Linked DNA regions of Homo sapiens. The protein of the gene in region 1 purifies or fractionates together with the protein of each later gene. This does not show direct contact. Each region holds a gene or a part of one and is shown in the gene's direction. Other genes may lie near its edges.

What was found. Proteins that work in one complex are often made in the same cells at the same time.
Region 2: the proteins of KLRC2 (region 1) and GAS6 purify together in Homo sapiens (affinity purification with mass spectrometry; one large-scale study listed by BioGRID and IntAct). This does not show direct contact.

What each region holds. Positions count from the first base shown.
Region 1 is NC_000012.12:10,433,211-10,437,394, reverse strand, and holds the start of KLRC2 (NKG2-C type II integral membrane protein), read left to right. Parts: upstream 1-1,384; 5' UTR 1,385-1,408; coding exon 1,409-1,595; intron 1,596-1,984; coding exon 1,985-2,083; intron 2,084-2,864; coding exon 2,865-2,909; intron 2,910-3,452; coding exon 3,453-3,604; intron 3,605-4,184. UniProt on the Homo sapiens protein: Immune activating receptor involved in self-nonself discrimination.
Region 2 is NC_000013.11:113,857,577-113,861,076, reverse strand, and holds part of GAS6 (growth arrest-specific protein 6 precursor), read left to right. Parts: intron 1-3,500. UniProt on the Homo sapiens protein: Ligand for tyrosine-protein kinase receptors AXL, TYRO3 and MER whose signaling is implicated in cell growth and survival, cell adhesion and cell migration.

The sequences.
Region 1 (4,184 bases):
GGATTTTGTAACCATTACATTTTGTATATTATATTTAGACCAAACTTTAAAAATAAATTTTTAATATGGATACATCAAATTGTGAATGTCAAACATTAATTCTCAATCACACACCTAGATTTCATGAAAGCAGTTTTAATTTTTAATAAAAGTAAGGATGAAATCATTTCCATAAAATGCAAATCTGACCTTAATTATAAACAATTGGAAGACTTAAAACAATTGAACCAAACATTGCAAAAAAGATGTACCACACTGACATGAGACGCCTAATTAATGAGTTATTTTAACACACTCTAATGCAAATCAGAAATAATAAAATGGCAATTGTGTTAAAAATAGTTGAAATATCTATTATGTATTCAGTGGTAACATGTGCCAGGTTGTGTGTTTAGTTTTTTACATACATTATACTTTATAAATTATTTTTCCCAATGTAGATTAGTAAACTAGGTTAGTAGACACTAAGTAATTTAGTACAGGTCACATATTACAACTTGCAAAGCTAGAATTAATTGTAGTCTCACTGACTACAGAGCTCATTGACTAGATTATTAAATTACATTATCTGAACTATTACAATTACTTATACAACCAAAGCAACCCTCACTGACTTATACAATCATAGGAGCTTTCTGAAAGTTTGATTGGACACTATTCTTCCATAGACGGCCCACACGTTTATTTATCATTTTAAGTTTTCCTATTTTAGTCATTAAATCAATTACCAATTTCTTGTGTAAAAGCAGCAATTTAAAAATACGTTTTCAATAATATTTATGCATACAGTAATGTAATGTTTTACAAGATATATTTTTAAAATTTTAATGATTTTTCTGATTTCCTAATTTAGAAAAAAAATCATTTGACAATACCTCAGGTCCTTTTAATAAATGAATGTAAGTCACTAACAATGTATTTTAGTATAAGAAGATACTCTATATGCTGACAGAACTATTTTATCTTATGGCACACAATCCTTAACCATCAATGACTCTTAAAACTATGATAAAATTTGTGTATTTCTAAATACAGTATTTTGATTGTTGACATATGCAGTCTATTGGTGTTAAACATTTTTGAAGAATCTAACCTTAATTTAATACCAATTTTTCATGAACTTCCTAGTTCTCATAAGTTTAATGTTTTTATTGTTCCCACTAGTAATATTATGTCAAATACAGAATACATCTAAAAAATTGCCAATTATATCGTGTGATTTTTGTTTAAAGCTTTAGGAAATTAGTAGCAGAATTTTACATTGGTTAACAGCAAAGTAAACATTATTACTCAGCCCCAACACATGCACATTGCCTATACCAGGGATCCTGTCAAAATATACACCATTTATAGCTTCTTAAGTGCAGTTATCATAGAGCACAGTCCCTCACATCACACAGCTGCAGAGATGAATAAACAAAGAGGAACCTTCTCAGAAGTGAGTCTGGCCCAGGACCCAAAGCGGCAGCAAAGGAAACCTAAAGGCAATAAAAGCTCCATTTCAGGAACCGAACAGGAAATATTCCAAGTAGAATTAAATCTTCAAAATCCTTCCCTGAATCATCAAGGGATTGATAAAATATATGACTGCCAAGGTAAAACATTAAATATATCTTCAATATTATTGTTCTAGGATGTGCAGTTGAATGCAGAAGGGTGAGGAAAGATTAGGGAATATTTTGCACTTGTGAGAATCGGAGTTCATAATTGGGATCTAAAATTCTAATATGAAATCAGAAGACTAATTTTATTCGGGCATTGTTCAACTGTAATCTGCGGTCCACTCATGGAACATTATATTTACTGAAAATGAAATGGTATATTCTGAGAGAAAGATTACTAGAGTAGATGTAGATTTAGAGGCCAGAGTTTATCATTATGTTTCCCTGTGCATGTGGGTTCTCTAGTATGTAATTCTCTAGTATGTAATCCTAATCAACTCTCTATCTCCCCTCTCTCAGTGCCTCTATTTCTCTCCCTGCAGGTTTACTGCCACCTCCAGAGAAGCTCACTGCCGAGGTCCTAGGAATCATTTGCATTGTCCTGATGGCCACTGTGTTAAAAACAATAGTTCTTATTCCTTGTAAGCATATTCTTGAAAGATTAGAAGGGAACGTTTTACTTTAATGCTTGGAAGTGCCTCAAAATATTTCATACTGTTGAAGAATAGAACTCTTATTTTACTGTTTCTTTCAAAGATCTATTACTTCATTTATTTTTATAGAAAAAGTTAATTTTATTAAAGATTGTCCCCATTTTAAATAACACACAAAGTTTCAAAGTAAGAAACTAAACTCATTATGGTTTATCTAAATATTACTTTTTATAAAAATCATTTTAATTTTTCTGTTACAGTCCTGGAGCAGAACAATTCTTCCCCAAATACAAGAACCCAGAAAAGTACATTTTTATTTTCAAAGTTCTGATATTAGTACAATTTGGAACCAAAAGTAATATGGTTATTCTGAATTTTTCACAACATAAATAACAAAATCATTGTAGAGAACATGTGTTTATTTTTTGTGTGTAATCTATATATATGTATATACATACACACACAAAGATATTTTCTGATTTCATAATTCAAAGGCATGCTATAGAAGAAAAGTATTTAGAAAAACAAATTAATTTTTGAAAGTGGTTACATCAAATACTACAAGAGATGGTGAAGTTTGTGCTAAAGTCTTTAAAAATGTTTATTTCAAAGGTCTATTACTTTATATATTTTTATAGAAAAAGTTAATTTTATTAAAGATTCTCCCCATTTTAAATAACACACAAAGTTTCAAAGTAAGAAACTAAACTCGTTATGGTTTATCTAGATATCAGTTTTTATAAAAATCATTTTAATTTTTCTATTACAGTCCTGGAGCAGAACAATTTTTCCCCGAATACAAGAACGCAGAAAGGTACATTTTTATTTTCAATGTTCTGATATTAGTACAATTTATATTTTGTGTCTGTTTTAAGGCATGTAAAAGAATAGTGGCATTTTTGCAGAAAATAAGCCATAAATTCAGCCATAAATATTTATAAAGAAAGATTATGAGGCAGCATTTCCTTTTCTCCAGTGAGTAGAAATACTCACTTAAAATCATTCTACCCTCTTTCTCCCAATTAACAGAGGTTTCCTACTGCTGTGAGATGATACCAAATAAATAATTTTACTATTCTAAAAAAGCAGTTGTGTATCAGCGATGTTCAACACATGTGTAGAGTGTATTTTTGTTTGTTCATTTGCTTTATATGGGAACACAATTAGGGAGGAGAGGCTAACCCTTGTCTGTGCATGTGTGTATGACTGACTCAGTTATTAAAAATATACATTTATAAGCCTGTAAGGATGCGTAAATATGTTAAGCACATATATGTTTATACTGTTGAAATATGTGAACTAATTTTCATTTTTAAAAATTCATATTGGTCTAGATAGTAATTCATATCTTTATTAGCACGTCATTGTGGCCATTGTCCTGAGGAGTGGATTACATATTCCAACAGTTGTTATTACATTGGTAAGGAAAGAAGAACTTGGGAAGAGAGTTTGCTGGCCTGTACTTCGAAGAACTCCAGTCTGCTTTCTATAGATAATGAAGAAGAAATGGTAAGATGTAAATGTTTCAAACATTTTATGAAAAGCTTCCTTCAGTGAATAATACATTTGTAGAAAACATCCATATGTGTGTACATATATTTATCTCATATATTTTCAAGTGTATGTAATATTCAATTGATTGACTTAATAATGTTTTTAAAGTTATATACTGCTAATGTACATTTATTTTCAGTTTTTGTTTTTCAAGGAAAACCATGCTTCTATAAGTGCTTTGAATCCACAATAAATTTTGCTATCTAATTTTATCGGGCATGATATCATCTGGTCATGCAGATTGATCACAAAGTGAATGAATGCATGTGATACAAGTCAGATCATGAAATAAAAGTTTCCAGCTCTAGCAGTTCCACCCCTGTGTATGCCCTCATCACTTATCCTGACTCCTCTCCAAAACGCAGTCTTGACTTTTAATATTATAAATAATGATTGCCTGTTCTTGAATTTATTTATATAAAGGGAATCAAGCAGTGTGAATTTCATGTCTTTTTCAATCCTATCTGATATTTGTGCAATTCCTCCATATTATTGCAGTTATCAGTAGTATGTTACTGTTCACTGCTGTACTATG
Region 2 (3,500 bases), on another chromosome or scaffold:
ACCCGCTGTGCAGCCCTTCCAGCAGGCAGATACTAAGCCCGGCACCCCTCCCAGGCTCCAGGCTCACTTGTGTGCTAACCTCTGTGCCCACCTGGCCACCTGCTCACCTGCCTGAAGCGTGTCCCACTGCCCCAAGCTGGGGCTGCTTCCTGGTTGTGAGGGAAGTGCCTGCTCTGCAGACCCCCACCTTCCAGCAGGCGGATACTAAGCCCAGCACCCCTCCCAGGCTCTGGCCCTCCCCACACACCTGTGGTTTCAAGCCCTGTTCTGCTGGAAGGGACACTCCTCCCACCTCCCCAGCCCTCTCTGCTGGAGCCGTGCCCCTCCCCCGACATTCCTCCAGGCTGGGCCACCCCCACATGCCTCCTTGCTCTCCACCGCCCAGACCTTCTCCTTATCTTGTTTTCCTTTTTATATTGTTGTTCTCCCTCCCTGGCCTTGCCTCTCCCTGCTGGGTTCCTTGCCCGAGTTTCTAATTCAGAGAAGACTGGGTAACTCCCCACAGTGTCTCTGCTAAAGCTTCCCAGGCCCAGTGACTTTTTACTAAATCCTCGAAGGCCATCAGGTTCCAGGGCCTGCTGAGGTCTCCATAATCACCCCTTGATTCCAGAAATGATCCGAGACTAGAGACTTATCCCAGCCCAGCCCTACTGCCCAGGTCCTCCGGTGCCTGCCTGGGAGCCTGTTTGTGCACTTTGATCCCCGGCCTGCCTGCCGGAAAATCATCCAGGCTGTGGTTCCTGATCCCATCACCTGGCTTTATCTGAGATACAAAGCACAATATTCACCGAGGGCTGGTGGCCTTCCCTGAGGGTTGGCCTGGATTAGCAACCTGCACCTGTACCCGCACCTGCACGACATGTGGCCAGGCCTGTGCTCCGAGGCCAGGTTTCCCTTCCCCCATCTCTTTCTTTGTCTCCCTCTGTGTTTCTCTCTCTGTCCCAGTCTCTCTCTTCTCCCCACTGCTGGTGGTGAGGAATTCTCCGCATGGGATGTTGGTGCATCCGTTTTCAAACTTGCTGGCTCATCCTGAACTGCATGTGCCCTCCAAGCACCTTTTCCCTGACCTTGTGGATTCTTTGGGAACAGCTGGGGAAGGGGTACCCTTTATGGAAATGAAAACCCCTCTGAGTCCCCACTTGGGAACAGCCACTTGGCTGGGACACAGGCCCAGATGTTGGGATGGCCTAAAGGGAGGTCCCTGTTGGAGGGGAGGGCTGTACAATGTGGGGGCGCCTGGTGGGGAAGGTGATGGCCAGGCTGAGACCTCCCCTGCCCTGCCTTGACAGAGGCTGCAGCACACTCCCACACACAGACACATGCACACACATTCACACATGGACACCAGCACAGATAGGTGCTGACTCATGGATACAGGTGTGCAGGGACACACACACCCCTACCTAGACACATGCACACATGTACATATGTTCCCATAGACACAGATATACATGCACACACACAGGCACACACATACTAACAGACATGTACATACGTATGCACACATTCACATAGATATACGTACACACACACACTGACAGACATGCACACACATAAACAGGCACACACACATACTAACAGACATGTACACATACATGCACACATTCACATAGACATACGTACACACAGTCACACACTGTCCAGACATGCACATACAAGGCACACACATACTAACAGACATGTATACATACATGCACACATTCACATAGACATACAGTCACACAGACATGTACACATGCATAATGACATGCACACACATACTAACAGACATGTACACATACATGCACACATTCACATAGATGTACCTACACAGTCACACAGACATGCATACATAGGCACACACAGACATGTACACATACGTACACAGTCACACACACAGACATGCACACACAAAGGCACATACTAGCAGACATGTACACATACATGCACACATTCACATAGACATATGTAAGCACACAGCCACACACTGACAGACATGCACACACATACATGCACACATTCACATAGACATACGTACACACAGTCACACACTGTCCAGACATGCACATACAAGGCACACATACTAACAGACATGTATACATACATGCACACATTCATATAGACATACAGTCACACAGACATGTACACACATGCATGACACGCACACACATACTAACAGACATGTACACATACATGCACACATTCACATAGACTTACATAGTCATGTACACACATGCATAATGACACACATACTAACAGACATGTACACATACATGCACACATTCACATAGACATACATACAGTCACAGACATGTACACACATGCATAATGACACGCACACACATACTAACAGACATGTACACATACATGCACACATTCACATAGATGTACATACACAGTCACACACACAGACATGCATACATAGGCACACACAGACATGTACACATACAGTCACAAACACACAGACATGCATACATAGGCACACACAGACATGTACACATACGTACACAGTCACACACAGACATGCACACACAAAGGCACATACTAGCAGACGTACACAGACATGCACACATTCACATAGATGTACATAGTCACACACAGACATGCATACATAGGCACACAGACATGCACACACAAAGGCACATACTAGCAGACATGTACACATGCACACATTCACATAGACATATGTAAACACACAGTCACACACACTGACAGACATGCACACACATGCACACATTCACATAGACATACGTACACAGTCATACACTGACAGACATGTACACACATGCATAATATGCACACATGTACACACAGTCACATAAATAGACACATATACACACACAGGCACACATGGATGCCCAGCCACATGCATGCAGACACACACAGACACATGTGCACCCTCTCACACACTTTTCTCTTTCTACAACTTTGGGGTCAGAAGACCACTGACAGCTGCAGCAGGATCACTAAAAAGTGACACAAGGTCACGGGGCTCTGTGGCCCCAGCTTCCTCAGACCCCCAGGGTCTCTCCACTCCCAGAGCCCCCTGCCTGAGGGGCCGGAGCCCTGTGGCCAAGGCCTTTCCTCCTGGGCCCATCCTGAGGCCTGCAGGTGGACCCCGGCCCGGCCTCCTCTGAGGGCCGTCTTCCGTGCTGGCTCCGCAGCCCTCTCCTGTGCCCGCACCTGTGCAGATGCTTGTTTTCACCCGGGCGTCTGCAGGCACTTGGTGCCAGGCTCCTCCGGGGCTTTCTCAGAGGCAGCCGAGTGCCAGGCCCTGCACACGACACCCTCACCCGAGCCGGAGAGCTTCACATCTGTGGAAAACTCTAATTAAAGACGTTTTGAGAAACGCTGAACGTCTCCCTTTGTTATTTAGGAACAAAACACTCTTTTAGGAAGCAAGTGCTTATGGCTTCTTTCTTGAGATTCTGAGTAAAGGGGCGTTAAGCTTGCTAGCTGGGGCATGCTGAGCACTTCCCAGGTTATGGCTTTACCCCAGAGCGATTGACAGGCATCCAGGT